4 separate regions of the Homo sapiens genome follow, and all the other regions are linked to region 4. Evidence: fine-mapped expression QTL. A gene starts in region 4. Each other region holds a variant in brackets. All regions are shown on one strand. Distances are from middle to middle.

Evidence for each region. PIP is the estimated chance that this variant, and not a neighbour inherited with it, causes the effect. A credible set is the group of variants that fine-mapping cannot tell apart.
Region 1: its variant is the best candidate, but not a certain one, in a credible set for the expression of SAMD5 in tibial nerve (GTEx, PIP 0.89).
Region 2: its variant is the best candidate, but not a certain one, in a credible set for the expression of SAMD5 in cerebral cortex (GTEx, PIP 0.73).
Region 3: its variant is the best candidate, but not a certain one, in a credible set for the expression of SAMD5 in prefrontal cortex (ROSMAP, PIP 0.59).

Annotation. Positions count from the first base shown.
Region 1 is chr6:147,871,262-147,875,611 of GRCh38, reverse strand. It overlaps a transcript of SAMD5 not described here. Among named protein-coding and RNA genes, the nearest start is that of SAMD5, 360 kb to the right of the region's middle. The variant A/G (reference allele first, on the strand shown) is at 1,661.
Region 2 is chr6:147,675,304-147,679,653 of GRCh38, reverse strand. It overlaps a transcript of SAMD5 not described here. Among named protein-coding and RNA genes, the nearest start is that of SAMD5, 170 kb to the right of the region's middle. The variant G/A (reference allele first, on the strand shown) is at 2,568.
Region 3 is chr6:147,669,739-147,674,088 of GRCh38, reverse strand. It overlaps a transcript of SAMD5 not described here. Among named protein-coding and RNA genes, the nearest start is that of SAMD5, 160 kb to the right of the region's middle. The variant T/C (reference allele first, on the strand shown) is at 2,171.
Region 4 is chr6:147,506,820-147,511,169 of GRCh38, reverse strand. It overlaps SAMD5 (sterile alpha motif domain containing 5), which reads right to left and starts at 2,480. Exons shown (of 2, transcript NM_001030060.3): 1 at 1,783-2,480. The coding sequence starts at 2,241. RefSeq lists a silencer at 4,279-4,328.

The sequences.
Region 1 (4,350 bases), 360 kb before region 4:
CCACCACTCACCTCCTGCTGTGTGGCCTGGTTCCCAACAGGCCACAGACCAGGGGCTGGGGACCCCTGTTCTAGGGGATAGAACACTCAGCTGACAAGAGAGTAGAAGAGAAGAGGGATGAGATAGTCGAATGGAAATTATTAGTTATAGCTGCTTAACAGCTCTGGGCAGGCTGGACTTCAATGCATACTAGAGGCATGTGGGGGTGTAAAGAAGGTCATACCTCACAGACAGTAAAAGAGTTAAGAGGGGACCACTACTTGGTCGTTGCTCTAAGTGGTGCAGGCCATTGGTGTATCTTCAGTAACTAGAACTCTGCTGGGTTCAGTAAAACTGGGCATTCTAATCACATAATTCACATTTCTCAAATAAGGTTGTTTTTAAGGTCTTAGGGGAAAAATAGTGCATATAATGTAAACCAAAATAAACCTGACAAGTATAGAATTAGTGTTAAAATTTGAGAAACTGTCTTTCTAATCATGAGAGAATTTTAAAGTGACTATTATTATTATTTTAAATGAAGAAGTTTTAAAATTCAACTTGGAAGTGCAAACACAAACTTAAAAGGTAAGTAAATGAACAATCTTTGCTTAAGAAAACAGTAACATGCGGAAATAGGCAATTAAGAGAGTTCCTCTCTTACCATTTGGGCATTTTCTCTGAGTGAAGTCATGTGAGCCTCCCAGAAAACTCTTAACGCAGCTTAACATAATCAGGCCATTTTCAAAGTCCTGCCCGAATCCCACAGACGTAATTTGTCACTATAAACATGTACAATCATAAAGGACCACTAAAATTAAAGTAAAACCAATGCTGATTATCAAATTTATTTTTGTGAAAAGTCCAAATCTCCATGCTGCCCCTCCCAAAATTCTTGTTCGACATCTTCAAAAGTACTGATGCTGTGAGTTCTGATTATGAAAGCACAGAGATCCTCTTCACAGATGAACTTTTTCTTTGCATAGCACTTGTCCATCCTTCTTTATAGTCCAAATTCAGACCCAATGCCCTGTCTTTGCTGTGGACTTAAAAAAAGCAGCAATGACTACTCGGCCAAATGCTCCAGCTCCTGCCACCAGCTGGCCGGAGGGCCGGCTGTCCTGAGCAAACACCCTAAGAATGTCATTGCCCACGCAACAACGGGCTTCTCGGTCCTCATACAAAAGCTTCAATTTAATATGGGTTGCAAAGCTAGCTTGACAAAAAATCCAAGAAAAGGTCATTTTAGATTGAACACAGCTTTTCAATAATAGGAATTACCTAATGCAACACATGGGCATGTTCTTCCTTTACCCGAGAGAGCTAGAGACATTTTAGATCAATAATGGGATGAAGAAATCTAAGATCTAATATGAAATGGGTAAAGACCTTAAGAGTCAGATATGTAATATTTCTGTAATGCCTAAACTGTGAAGCCATAATTAAGGAAGTAAAGCCAATCAGCCTGTTTCCCCACCCTAGGAAAAAGCCTTCTATTCTTGCTTAGCATTGCCTAAAGTTTTTTGAGCAATTAAGTAAGCATAGTATCATGTTCACTAAAAGCAGACAGTAGCTGAGACAGATTTCTCCTATATACATGGTACATTTTTTTAAATGCTGTAACTTTTGATGACTTGTTCTCAAGAGACATATAATATAAAACAATCCACTGACTCATTCT[A/G]TTTTTCCTATGTATAAGTTTGCTGCTAATTTGGGGTTTTTGAAATAACATTGGTGATGCATCATAAAATACTTCCTAACTTTCCAGAAGGTATATAGGACATTAAAAGAATCTATGCATGGAAACCACTGTAGCTAGCTCAATGAATAAAGAAGTAAAGATAAATCTGATAAAAAGAAAGTACTGAATATTTTAATTACAAGGAAAGGAAGCCAAATTAAATAATAAGTCATTATTTTAACTCAGGTACTTTAAAATTTCTCTAATTATAAAATTAGAACCACTTAATAAAAATTTATACTTTTAATAAATAATCCATATAATAACTAGTAAGTACCATTAGCATTAGTACGATATATACACAGAAAACCTTCCTACATCATATGAATATTTCAAAATAATTTTATTTTCATGTCTTGGGTCACTCTTTTTCCTCTTTCTATAAAACTCACATTACAATTAATAGCAACATGCATTTTTTTAAACCCTAGACTATTGAAAAATCAACTAACAACACAGTCAGAATAGATACCAGACAAATATACTTAGTTGTTAAATTACTTTTTTTTTTTTTTTGAGATGGAGTCTCACTCTGTCACCAGGCTGGAGTGCAGTGGCGCGATCTTGGCTCACTACAACCTCTGCCTCCTTGGTTCAAGCGATTCTCCTGCCTCAGCCTCCCGAGTAGCTGGGACTACAGGCGTGCACCACCACGCCCAGCTAATTTTTGTATTTTTAGTAGAGACAGGGCTTCACCATGTTGGCCAGGATGGTCTCAATCTCTTGACCTCATGATCCACCCACTTCAACCTCCCAAAGTGCTGGGATTACAGGCGTGAGCCACAGCACCCGGCCTTAAATTACACTTTTAATATACAGCTAGTTTCTCATCATATTTAAGAGTGCAATTTTTAAGGGCAATGCTACCAAGGCATAGATCAATTCAGTTCGCACTTGTGTTGATTATGTGCTTGTACAAGGCACTACGATGGCCCCGAAGCTGATTAAAAAGAAAACACCAAGGAAAATTGTTTAAAATTGGACACACTTCCTGTCTTCATGGAGCTATGGGACTTGTTGGGGAGCAGAATTTCCAATTTGAGTTAGATTTTTTCAATATGGCATCAGGTGGTACTGACCCATCCATTTGTTCTCATTGATTAGCCATCATTAGTGTGGCCTGAACACAGTGCCATCAGACTGAGTGTAGGTGATGGGAAAGGGATTTTCCTCATGTCTGTTCCATCACGGACCATGAAGTGGGCAAGTCCATGAGCACCAGGTCAGTCCCCATGAATACTCATTCCATACTCCACTAGGGAAAAGCAGTATAGAGGAGTGATGCAAACATGAGTTCAAATCCAGCTTCTTGCCTCCCCCTAGCAATGTGACCTTTGGCAAGGAACCCAACCCACTGATGTGTTTCCTCATTTGTAAAATGAGGATAATAACCCACCCTTACTGGGATGCTATGAGGATCAAATTAGTTAATTCAGGCAAAGCGCTTAACAATAGTGCTTGGCATAGAGCAAGTTTAGAATGATTACATAATAGACCAGGCACAGGTAGCTCATGCTTATAATCCCACAAGTTTGGGAGGCTGAGGTGAGAGGGTCTCTTGAGGCTAGGAGATTTAGATCAGCCTGGACAACAGAGCAAGACCCCATCTCTAAAAAAAAACAGCCAGGCATGGTGGTGCACACCTGTAATCCTACCTGCTTGGGAGGCTGAGGTGGGAGGACTGCTTGAGCCCAGGAATTCAAGGTTACAGTGAGCTGTGATTGTGCAACTGCACTCCAGCCTGGGTGACAGAGCAAGACCATGTCTTAATAATACTACCACTACCACTAATACTAATACTAATATAGTGTGTTTATGAATCAGAATAACGTTGTTGCAAACTGGAGAAATGCTCATGATTCTTCTCAGTAGGTAAGACTGTTCTCCTTTTCTTAATTAGAATCACTGGATTCCTGTTAAATTAAATTTACATATATATTATTTTTCTGAATGCTAAGTTTCTCTTTAATTACTTTGAAGAAAGAGAGTTACAGATTTAATTCGCTATATTAGAAACAACTGGTTGGCCTCATGAAAATAAAATTTAGAACGTAGCAGGAATTACAGTAGGGGAAGAAAGTCTGAAAGAAAACTGGAAAAAACTGACAGATTTTTGAACGGTGTAATCAAACATGCCTTTTCCTAATACTGCTGCCTTGCCTGATGTCTCTAATAGGACAAAGGGGAGGACAAAGTGAGTTGCTTAAGGTTCTAGATAGCACTAGAGATAAGCAATAAGATGTTGCCGGTACCCAAGGAATAAACTGGAATGATATTGTTAATTTTGCCATTCTGATAAAGTGAAGAGAAGGACAAATAAAATTTCCTAACTTTTCTCACCTTTGTATCTCTCTTTCCTTTACTTCTTTTATTTTGAGGCTCTGCCCAGTCATCTTTAAAAAGAGGTTACATTTTAGAGATTTGTCTTGTCCTGTTTTTGTTTTTGTTTTTTCCGTTTCAGTGGGAAAATGAGCCTTAAACAGTTGCCTAATAACATCAAAGCTAGAGAGGTACAATGGTAAATTTGTATAGTTTTTATAGTTTTATTCTTAAGCCTAAATGTATCTCTTTTGATATTAGTAATTAAAGAAAAAAATTTGTCATATGTAACTCTAAAATATTAGTTTATT
Region 2 (4,350 bases), 170 kb before region 4:
CATTTAAAAACTCTGCTCGTAGAAAAAATTATTTTCCAAATGAAAAAATAAGCCACAGACTGGGAAAAATAATTGCAAAAAACCTATTTGATAAAGTAATTTAATCTAGAATACATAAATTCATTGTGGAATTCTCAAAACTCAATAATATGAAAACAAACCCAAGTTAAAAAATGGACAAAATATTTGAACTGACACCTCACCAAAGAATATATACAAATGCACATAAGCACACGAAGAGATGCCTGACATCATTCATCATTAAGGAAATAAAAACTATAATGACATTCTACTACAAACTTATTTGAGTTTCTAAAATGAAAAAGTCTGGCCATCCCAAGCATTGACTATAATGTAAAGCTACTGAACTCTCATACTCTGCAGTCTGAATACAAAATGATACAACTGCTTTGGAAAATAGTCCAGAAGTTTCTTTAAAAGTGATACATAGACCCACTATTCGATCCAGCCACTCCACTCCTAGAAAAAGGTAAAATGTGATCTTATAAAAATGTGTACATAAATATTCATAGATTTATTTGTAATAATCACAAACTGGAAACAACCCAAACACCCATCAACAGGTGAATGGGTAAACAAATTGTGGTATATCTATCCATTAAATTGTGGTATATATAGCCATATATTAGTACACAATTATATTACTGAACATCACTCAGCCATAAAAAGCAATGAACTATTGAGACATACAACAATACACTTTTGGAGACGATGGATATGTTCATTATCTTGATTGTGGTGATGGTTTCATGGGTATACACCTGTGTCAAACTTAACACAATTGTACACTTGGAATATGTGCAGTTTATTGTATGACAAGTATACCTCATTAAAGGTGTTTTAAAAAAAGAGAGCTCACTTATGCCAAGAACACACTAAAGTAACACAGTGAGAAAACCCTTCCCTCTTCCATGAACTCCCATTTCTCAAGGCGTTCTTTTATGGCTTATTTCTCTATGCTGGGACATCCTTCCACCCATTTCATCTAAGTGTTTGGTTTTGAATAAGATTGTTGATGAGGAGAGGTAACAGGTATAGATGAGGTCCCCCATCTTTCTGCCTACCAGAAAAGAGAGTTTTGGTAGACTTAAGAAAAGCCCTAAAAAGGAAGAAAATTATCCTGATTTATTACTTATGTTACAGCGAGTGATCTGGCAGGAAACAAAACCAGCAGTTAATCTGCCAAGCTGAAAAAATGCAACCCCTTTGTTGGTTGTTATGAAGCATTCAGCTGTTTTATAGTGGAAGTCTATCAAATTCAATACATTTTACATGATTGCAAATTCCTTAAAATATGAAGACACTATAACAGCATAACAATGAGAGACTGTGTTAGTTTACAATAACAAATTTTGTTATTCTTTGTAAATCCTACTGTTTTATTTTTAATAGTGACAAGACAGAAAATGCTAACAATGTTATGTTAATATAAGTGAGTACGTGTGCTTTAATGTGCAAACGAGAAGATAAGAGTTGCCTTTGCCTTCTTTCAGAAGTTTAAGTCAGGCGTATAAAATAAGACAATCTTATGGGAAAATGCATCTATAAATATCTATGATAATTTACCATAAATTACACATTATCCTGCTCCCACCTCCACCCCTCAGTGGAGTAAATGCCCTTAACCAAAGAGGTAGGATGAGAACCAATTGCACCATTCTTTATCTTTTCTACATAAGCTCTGTTAAATGCAACCCTAAATGGAGCAGCTATTTTCAGGGTAATATAAGATGACACTTGGGATATTGCCAGGAGTGTTTCAATTATTCAAAAGTGCCTGAGCATGGAAGGGGCTGGCTTGCTCACTTTTTGGTTGGGCCTCTAAGGTGACAATTCACAAGGCTCCCTACTAACTACGATGCAACCACCATACACCCTCTAACCTCCCCATCCCTTTACAGTGCCGATGTCCCATGGCCTTGCTCCCAAGCCCCCGCCCGCCATCCCTGGGCACCCTTCCTGCTTCCTCCATAGTGGTGAGCTTGGCCCAGAGCTCTTCTGCTGCCCAGCCCCTTTATGCTACTCTGAGGCTTCATCCTCTTGGGGTTTTTTAATCCCATTATCTGTGTTAGATACTCAACTCAATCCCATTCTCTCTGTTAGATACAGATCACATTTTTCCTCCATTTTCTCACATTAAATGTAACTTAATTTTCCTCAAGCTCAAAGTTTACCCTCTAAACCTTCCCAATGGCAGCCACTCCTTTTCCAACACCAACTCATTGCTGCTTCCAAGTCATTGCTTTCCCAGTTCTCTGGGCTGTTTCTCCACTGAAGTTCCTTACCACACCACTTTCTCCCCCTCCTCCACCTCATTCAGGAACTTCAGAGTGGCTCTGCCATCATTCTTAGAAACTCTCTTACTACTCAAGTTGATAATTCCTTTAATATTCAGTTCTTCTCAAAGTCATTCCCTAGCCTTGTCCAATACAGAGAGGTCCGGGTTTGCAGACTCTGAGACATCCTTGCTGATGACATGACTATCCGCAGCACACCGCATTCCTCAGTCACCCTCCACTCCTAAACATCAGCAGGCTGACATTGTC[G/A]GTAGCTCTGAAGATTTGATTTATGAGCTCAAGTCATAAAAATCAGGAAAAGAGCCACTGTCTTTCTTTAAGAAAGAAAATCCTCCTTTGATTGAGCAAAGCCAGTCCATTTATATGCTAATTTTATTTTTATCTGGCCCCTCACCATCTGGCCCCAGCTTCTGTCATTTCTTACTCTCACTCCCCCTCCCTCAATTCTGTATTTCATCCAGCCCCCTCTACCCTGATCTTCTAGCTCCCCTACCCCCACCCCCACCCCCAGGCCACTCTTTCCTCCTTAGACATGTGCTTTGCTCGTGGCAATCTCTCTACTGGAAAGCTGCATCTCTCCTGGATATTTCTATCGCTTCTTCAAGGTCTGGTTTAAATGTTACTTTCTCTTTGAATCCTTTCTCAGCTGTCTTAGGATGATTCATCCCTACTCATGTATATACTGACTGCCTACAATGTGCCAGGCATGTTCTAGGGTGTAGGGATCCATCAATGAGCAAAACAGATGAAAATCCCTACCCTCGTTGAATTCACCTTCCAATAGGAGGAAATCAATAATATACAAGAGGTATAGACTTTAAAAATAGTACACTATTTACTAACAGCATACTCTACCAATAAGTGCTATAAACCAGGATAGAAAAATAATGAGTGCTGAGAGTTGGGAAGGAAATTGCAATATTAAAATTAGGTGGTCTAAGAAAGCCCCACTGAATAGATGATCTTTCAGCAAACACCTGAAGGAGCTGAGGAAGTGAGCTTGCATTTGAAGAATGGCAAGATCAGTGTTCATTGCTAGTATCTCGGTGTCCAGAGTTGGACTGTGAATTCTGTGAGGTGAGAGACTTCTCACAGGTTTGTACTGCCAGTTTCCAAAATGGTCCCCAGCATCTTGCCGGGGTTGAATAAAAATGATGTTTGAATTGAACTTAATACCTACAGCATGCTCTGCTTATTCCTGTCCAGGTCCATTTCCCATTTTCAGATGACTTTTCTCAGGGGTAACATTACAAGCAGGCAACTGAGTGAAAGATGACAAACTTCAATTACCATAAAAGCAACTTACTCCACGCTTTCACCATGCAGTGTAAAATAAACAGTTAAAAGGTAACTGTGCTTGGTGTTGATATATTGAAACTTAAGCTAAATTCTTGGTATTCTCCAACATATTTACAAGTGGGTAATAAAATGCAAAGGAAGTTTATTTCTTTTGCGTGGCATTAATGTAAATGACCAGCAGTTTCATTACCCTTGAACTTCAGTGATTTGCTGCAGCTCTGCATTAACAGAAAATCACTGTCAGTTCATTTTAAATGGATTCTATGAAGGTGTTATAATTTTCCCCTTATACAAAAAACATCCTAAAATCTACATTTAAGTTATATTACTGGACCAATCAATGGCCACAATACTGTATCAAATACAGCAAATTTAAGAGTGAGGCCTTAATGACATATACCATGTATACGTTTCAATTAAAATAAATCAGAAGCTAACAACCACTGGCAAAAACTCCTACACATACAAAACCCGCGTAGAATAAGTTAAAATGATTCATAAAAAAGAACAAAGAAACATTCATCCCTAATGAGATGACATCACTGAAGAGTAAAACAGTATCTAGAACATCTGTTTCAATTACGTTGTTGGGGAGCCAGTCATGTTTTATAGTACGGATGTATATGAGGTATTCACTTGGCAAGGTAACCTCAACAGGAAAGCAGAGGGAACACGTTCAGGATGGGTTCTTCACATTTCAGAGCTTACTTGTGGTTACAATTCTAAAGGAAGC
Region 3 (4,350 bases), 160 kb before region 4:
AGAGTAAAAGAGCAGTTTTCAATTTACATTTACAGCACAACATTGTGTCATTAGCATAACCATTGAACAACTGTGAATAAATACCAAGTCATACTTACTGTTAATCCTTCCTAATAATCACAGAGCTTAAAATTGCCTTGTACACTACATTTTTATTAATTACCCAAATACCTGAAGACCTCTAACCCATTATCCTTTTTTTTCTGACAAACTGACCTCCACTTTCTTTTAAAACCCTATTCCTGCATAGATTAAACCCTCCTTTTCCCTCCATCTTTCATTCATGTTGCTCTTATTGACAACACTCTAGATATAGGTGACCTTCACCATAGTCTCATCACCGAAGAATTGATGTTTAAGGTTCTTAATTTTTTCTTTTAATTATATTTTTCATGGATTTGATACATCTGATTAAAAAAATGAAATCAGCATTTAACAATAGTTAGGTTACTATATCTTGCTTTTATTAAGCCAGGAAAAAAAAACCTGATACCATCAATAAATAGAGGAAGTGTCCGCACAAGTATCATTTTCCAAAAGAAAAGGCTAAAAATCTTATTTTAAAAAATGGTTTTTGGCGGGGTGCGGTGGCTCACACCTGTAATCCCAGCATTTCAGGAGGCCGAGGCAGACGGATCAAGAGGTCAGGCGATCAAGACCATCCTGGCTAACACAGTGAAACCCCGTCTCTAACAAAAATACAAAAAATAAGCTGGGCGTGGTGGCAGGCACCTGTAGTCCCAGCTACTCAGGAGGCTGAGGCAGGAGAATGGCGTGAACCCAGGAGGCGGAGCTTGCAGTGAGCAGAGATCACGCCACTGCACTCCTGCCTGGGCAACAGAGCAAGACTCTGTATCAAAAAAAAAAAAAATGGTTTTTGCTTTTTGGTATCAAAATTTATCTGAGCTGAGACATTTAAATGTTTATTTCTAAACAATTAATCAGCATTCAAGGTATTTCTGTAAGAGCCAAGGAGCCAAGGACAAGATAAGAAAAATCAGTATTATTATTACTATTCAACATTATTCTAGAAGTTCTAGCCAACAAAATAACACAAGAAAAAGGTAAGAGTAGCATAATTGTAGAAAGAGAAGAATTAAAGCTATCACTTACCTAGAAGATGCAAGACAAAAGTAAGTCATGCTATACTGTTTGGTCTAACAGTAAACTATGTTAAACAGTTACAACAATGTAAATAGTGGCTTTTGGTTTAAAATAAATAAATAAATAAATTGTGAAATGTATTATTTGGAAGGAACTTAAGGAGCAAAAGAGAGGGATTTTTAAAAAGTAAATCTTCACCTAGAAAATCAATAAATGATGAAATACCAAGAAAGAGCAGTATAATCAGAACATTTAGAAATATGAAGATATATGCAACAAAAAAAATTGCTTAAAGTGGCCTCTGTGGAAGGTGGATGTGGGGGATAAGGGTGGGGGGCTATTATAAGGAGACTGATTTTCTTCAATATAAGCCTTTTAGTGTTATTTGCTATTGATTTATTTAACTATGTTAAACATTTCCTGGATAAAAATATACCATGATTATCCATACAAAGAATACGCAGTTTCTCAAAAGAATAGAGTACATCCCCACGCACTAACATGAAAATATCTAACACATTGTAAGTGAAAAAATATTCATGTTGCAGAACTGTTCAAAGTGATGGAGAAGCATTTTCTCTTTATATTTTATAAATTTAGACTTTGGAAAATTTACCACAATATATACTTTAACATTTTGTAATTAAAGAATTTCTCAATCCAAGAACATCCACTGAACATATGCTAAAATTAATCAAAGTATACCATAAAGTGACTAGAACAAGGTAAGCAAAAATCAGTTTCCTTGTGTATCTTTAATAATAATTACAACACATAATGGAAAATTTTCCATTCACAATAATGGCAAAAAGTATAAAATACTAGCATTAAGACAAATAACAAAAGTACACATGCTATAATATTTTATAAAAAGCTACAAATAAAAATCTGTAAGTAGAGAGGTTAACCATGTTCCTGGTTGGAAAACTCAATATTGTAAACACGTAAACGCTCCTAAAATTTATTTATATATTCAATGCAGACTGCAACAAAATCCCCAAGAGAATTTTCTATGGAATTTGTCAAGTTGATTTTAAAATCCATCTGGAAGGGTAAATGTGCAAGA[T/C]GAGCTAAAAAAAAAAAAAAAAAAAAAAATCCTGAAAAAGAAAAATGAGAAGAAACATGTCCTATTAAATATAAAGCATATTATAAATTTCCAGTAATTTTCAAAATGTGGCACTAGAGCAATAATGAACAAGAAGATAAATGAAAATGGGAGAAAAGATAAGCAATTGACATTCAAAAAATAGGACGGACACATAAAAAGATCCAAAATTTTTATGAAAACAGAAGAAATAATTAAGTAATGGGTGGCTTGTTGCTCAATTTGTTGAAGATATTAAGCAAAAAATTAATAACACCCAATGACCAAAGACCCACTAGGAAACAATGTTCTCTTATGCTATTGGTGTTAGCAACTTGTTTCAGCCATTCTGGGAACAATTTGGTAGAAACTCTGTATGTTAAAAGTGCTTAAACCTTGACTTAGTAAGTCTACTTCTGAAACTCTGTCCTACAGATATATTAATCCGTATATCAAAAATACATGCATACTTCATTTTATTGTGCTTTGCTTTATTGTAGTTTTCAGATACTGCACTCTTCACAGATGGAAAGTCTGTGGCAAGCCTGCATCAAACAAGTCTTATGGCGCCATTTTTCCAACAGCATGTGCTCACTTTGTGTCTCTGTGTCATATTTTGGTAATGTTTCAAACTTTTCATTATACCTGCTATGGTGATCTGTGATCAGAGACCTTTGATGTTACCCCTGTAGTTGTTGCGGGGTGCCACAAACTGCTCCCACATGATGGTGAATTCAATCAATAAATATGTGTTCTGACTGCTCCACTGACCTGCCATTCTTCTGTCCCTCTTGCCCTTCTTAAGCCTCTCTATTTCACTGAGACACAACATTGAAATTGGGCCAGCTAATAAGCTTACAATGATCTCGAAGTGTTCAAGTGAAAGGAAGAGTTGCATTTCTCTCACTTTAAGTCAAAAGCTAGAAATTATTAAGCTTAGTGAAGTAGTCATGTCAAAAGCCAAGATGGGCCAAAAGCTAGGCCTCTGGTGCCAAACAGGAAAGATGCGAATGCAAAGGCAAAGTTTTTAAAGGAAATGTAAAGTGCTACTACGGTGAACACATGAATGACAGAAAACCAAAATTAGCCTTATTGCTGATATGGAGAAACTTAATAGTCTAGATAAAAGATCCTAACAGCCACAACATTCCTTTAACTCAAAGCCTAATTCAAAGCAGGGCTCTAACTCTCTTCAATTCTAAGAAGGCTGACAGAGGTAAGGAAGCTGTAGAAGAAAAGTCTGAAGCTAGGAAATGTTGGTTCATGAAGTTTAAGAAAAGAAGCCATCACCAACACATAAAAGTGCAAGGTGAAGCAGGAAGTGCTGATAGAAAAGCTGCAGCAAGTTATTCAGAAGATTTAAGATCATGGGTGAAAGCAGCTAAACTAAACAACAGAGTTTCAATGTACATGAAGCAGCCTTCTATTGGAAGAAGTTGCCATCTAAGACTTTCATAGCTTTAAAGGAGAAGTCAATGTCTGAGTTCAAAGCTTCAACAGAAAGGCTGATTCTCTTGTTAGGGACTAATGCTGCTGACTTGAAGCTGAAGCTAATGCTCATTCAATCATTCTGGAAATCTTAGGGCCCTTAAGAGTTATGCTAAATTTACTCTGTTTGTGTTCTATAAGTGGAACAACAAAGCCTGCCTAACAACACATCTCTTTACAACATGGCTTATTGAATATTTTAAGCCCATTGTTGAGATCTACTTCTCAGAAAAAGGAAAAAAATCCTTTCAAAATATTACCACTCATTGACAATGCACCTGGTCATCCAAGAGCTCTGATGGAGATGTACAAAGAGATGAATGCTGTTTTCATGCTTGGTAATAACATCCTTCCTGCAGCCCATGGATCAAGGAGTAATTCTGACTTTCAAGTCTTATTTAAGAAACACATTTCGTAAGGTGGTAGCTTCCAAAGATTGTGATTCCTCTGATGGATCTGGGCAAAGTAAATTGAAACCTTTTGGAAGGAATTCACCATTCTAGATGTCATTAAGAAGATCCATGATTCATGAAAGAAGGTCAAAATATCAACATAAACAAGAGTTTGGAAGAAATTGATTCCAATCCTCATGAATGATTTTGAGGGGTTCAAGACTTCAGTGGAGAAAGTAATTGCAGATGTGGTGGAAACAGCAAGAGAACTAGAATTAGAAG
Region 4 (4,350 bases):
GCCCCATTACACAGCACTTTTCCTGAAGAATAAGTAAGCTCTAGTGACACACTTTGCTCTCTGCATTCCTTTCTTGCCAGGACTTGAACTGTGCCCTTATCAAGTGCCCAGGTACTCACATTCTCTCAGACTAAGCCCACCTTACTTCCCGGGATGCTAATAACAAACATCTAACTGGCTTTGATCTCCTTTGACCTGCTGTGTCCAGGACCAAGCCTTTATACTGATGACCAGATCTCTCTATCCACACCAGACATACATGGAACTCCTACATACAGGCAACTGCCTGGGAAAAGTGTTCTCTCCTTTCCTGCTTTGAGCACACATCAGTGGCACAGAGTGGGTAACTGGAACACGTGTTTAATTTGAAGCACTCTGTCCTCCCAACCTGCCTTCTTTGTATCCTCCTTAAAAAACCAATTAACATGGTCAAGCAGGTGATCTGAATTGCCTATGGTACGTGCAAGGTAGTAGATAATATTAAACCCCTTATTCCCATCTACCTTAGGTATTGTTATCTACTCTTAACAAAGCTTTCCCTTTAACTTCCTTAACTCCAGGCATTACAGCCTTTACTTAAGATTCTACAGCAATACTACCAGGGCCCAAGATACCCACACAACACTGAGATTATCCACATTTCCTATTAGGGAGTTGGGTTTCTGTGGCCCACCAGCTGAGTATGTTTGCCATCATTTTCTCCCTGGGCTCTTCTAAGTCTTGATTTTTAAGCTGAGGTGCTCATATTCCTGTGCACCTTCTGCAATCCTGAGCGTTACCTGTGCTGTCTACTTCTCTATCAAGTCAGGACCCTCTACTCCGACAGCCGCCTGAACTAGAAACCTAAACGGAACAGACTCGCAGCTAGAAGCAGAGCTCTGGTGTGAAGTACCATTTTCTGTTAATTACCCAGCTCCCACTCCACATTTCGGAACTTCCAGGTTCCTTCCCTGAGGCCCCCGGTGCAGAGGATTCCCCTTTAGTTCACTTGTGCTCGGTCCTCCTCTCCCAAATGCAGGTCCACTCACACTTCCTGGAAGTCACAGTTGTACCTACTTCATCTTATCTGGCTTAATAATAAACCAAACTCGTGACAGCCCAGACCTCTGAAGCACATCCTGTGGCCCGATTATCTCTGATGTCCTTAGCACCTTATTGCCTCCAGTATACACAAGTTTAGGAAATCATCTCAAGTGGACTGACACGTGCTTCCTTCACTTTTCCTCTTAAAATGCTCATGTGAATGGTAAGCTTCTCAAATTTGCAGCAGCGCTGGGATTTTTTATGGAATTGAGAAAGGCAGGGCCTGACTTTCCACTCTTTAAAGAGTTCACCGATTTCCCTTAGGAGTTTCTCAAGACTCAAAAAAGGAAAAGAAAGAGAAAAAGGAAGGTAGAAAGCAATGTAGGTATTAACCATTTTTTCTGGTACTCTTCAAACCCAAAACTACTATAGAGGGCGTTAGGAATTCCCCCTGGCTACCAGGTGAAGCAGCGCGAGTCCGATTCCTGACAGGCGAGCACCAGAGAGGATGCGGAGTTTTGGTCGTTAGTTTAGAGATAACATCTGGATGCGGGGGCTTGTCTTACCAACCACTGGAGACACCAGGAAGGACGAAATAATGGGCTAATACAGAAAGAACATAGAAAAGGGTCCCAGATACCCAAAGCCTCCTGGCCTCTCCGTCGTCACCTGGAATGGGTTGCAAAGCCTTGGCACAGGCAGCTGGGCTGTGTCCCCTCCCGCCGCGCGCCCCGGGCCGCCCGGACGGCACCTCCTTACCTTGCGGGAGTACGGGGGCTTGCTCAGGTGGATGCCGTCACGGACGAGCTTATCCCTGATCATGATCTTCAGCTTCAGTTTGGGGTAGCTCACCAGCTCCCTGCTGCGGGGGGCGGTCGTGTGGCCGCGAGAGTCCCCGCGGGTGCCCTGGGCCGGGCCGCCGCACGGCTCCCCCCGGCGGCCGGTGGGGACGGCGTCGGCGGGCGGCCCGGGGGGCGCCGGCTGCGGCTCAAGCGTGAAGTAGAGGCCGGCGGCGTTGGCGTCCTGCTCCCGCAGCCGGCGCACGGCCTCCAGGATACGGCGGCGGTGCGCGGGCGCCAGCACCCCGATGGCATCCAGGTCCGGGTCCCCGATCTGCTTGCACACCTCCAGGTCATCGTAGCCGTTATCCACGAAGGACTCCGCGTACTGCGGAAGCTGCAGCGCTTTGAGCCACTCGTAAACTATGTTGGTGCACATGGTGGGACCGGGAACCCCGCCGCCGAGCACCTTCCCAGCGCCCAAATGGCACGGGCGGCACCAGTTCTTGGAACTTTTAATCCTCTCCTCCAAGGGGAAAAGGGTATCGCAGTAAAGTTTTCCTTTTAAAGGAAAGGCTCGGGCAGGAGACGGAAAACCATCAGAAGAAGCCTGAGGAAGGGAGAAGCGAACAAGCAGCAAAGTGAATTCCCCAAGCAGCAGCGGAGCTCGCAGGCACTGGCTGCTGGGCTGAGCAAGGCTCCGCGCCGCCCCTGGATGCGCCGCCGACGCTGCCGCCGCGGGGAGGGGCGCGCGACTGGCGCGGGAGGGGGCGGAGACGGGAGGGGCCGGGGCACACCCCTCGGACCTGCGCCGGGTCAGCGCTGCGCAGTGCCGCCCGCGAGTTTTCCCAGCCGGGACGGTCCGGCGGCTGCGCGCCGCATCTCGCGCTCTGGCAGCCGCCGCCGCCGCTGGCGCGCTCCGCGCCGCGAGGCGACTTCTCCACGCAGACCCGCGGCCGCTGGGAGCGCCTAGTCTTCGCGAGTGTCAGTCACTGTAGTCCTCCCGGCGGGAAGCCGGTGGCTTCTACGCTGCTGGGCTCCGTTGGCTGCCCTGGGTTGCTTTTCACATTTCTGTTTAATCTGACTCTTCTACCCGTGGAAGTCTGTGCTCACTTCTTCCCGACCCTGCCGGACTCCAGCTTCCGCGCCCGCTGGCAGCCCAAGGACACGTCCCGCCGCCCCACGGCGCTGGGGACGCTGCGGGGTTCAGTGTCCCTTCCTTCCGGATCCGCGTTTGAATCCCCCTTCCTCGGATCCCGTACGCAGCCCAGAGCCCGGCGATCTGACTTCTTCCGTGGGCGGCCACTCAGTGACCCGAGCGGCGGCGTTTTGGCCCGGAGGGTGGGCGCAACGTGGGGACCGCCCGGGTCCAGCCGGCTTGCGCGCCGCCCCTCCTCGCTGCAGCTGGGCACGTTGGGCGGCAGGAGAGGCTGCTGTCTTCCTGGCTCTCCCTTCCTAAGCTCCCGGGTCTGCGAAAGTTTGGGGTGGGTTGTACTTTCTCCTAGGTCAGTGTGTCCCACCCGGTACCCCACCCTCCTTTCTGCCCGGCCCCTCCCCCTCGTCGGCGCTATGCTTTCTCTCCGGGCCCCCCACCTAGTATACTGCACGGGCTCCCGGGGTGGCTTTGCCCCCGGGGACACTGCCAGGCGTTCGGTCCTGGAGCCCGGGAATCCGAGCCTATCCTCTCGCTCCCGCCCGGGGATCGCGTGAAAATCAATAGAGCACCACCCAGCTCGTGTTGGAAGGGACGCTCAGACATCTCCGCCCACGGCATTTTCCCTCTAGGAGGTAACAAAATCAATCGAGTTTCCCCATCATGCCAATGTCTGAGCAGCCTCTTGGGACTGGGGACTCGAGTGGCAGGTGGAACAGACCAAGCGCCTGGGCCCCATTTCCCGGTGTCTGACCTCTTCTTGGGACTAAGGGAAGTGAGGGACGGCGGGGGCAGGTACTGTCTCCTCTCTTTCCGCAGAAGGGCGATTCAGCTTCGCACCTGAGCTGTTTAAGGACCAGATCTGACCTTTTTTTCTGAAGATTGCCCGTGGGGCGTGCCAGTCTCTCGCCCGACCTTGGGAAGTGGACAAGGAGTGATTTCAGAGTCGTTTCTCGACCTGCTGTGTGTTTGGCATTTGGGTGGGTGGTTAGGTGGGCCCTCTTATCCTAAACCAAGAGAGCTTAACCCCCTCTTGGGACACGAACCCCTTAAAGAATCAGATGACAGCTTCTGTCCTTTTGCCCAGGAAAATACCCGACATAGGCGCACCCAAAACGTTCCCTACAGTCGCAGGGGGGTTCTGGTTTCCCAAACCCCGGGACTCACGAATCTCAAATTAAGGACAGCTGGCAGAAAGGACTGTCTGCTTAGGGGGAGGGGAGAGACCAACGCGGAGAGCCGGTGGAGCTGCTTGTGGCCCCAAACTTGGGTCACCCGGGACGCCCTTTCCGGAACCGAGTTAAGGTCTCGGACCCTGGTAGGTGGCGAAGCTCCTGGGCGCTGGGATGCTGGAAGGGCGCAGCCCTCCCCGCCCCGCGCGGGCCGCCGCCTCTC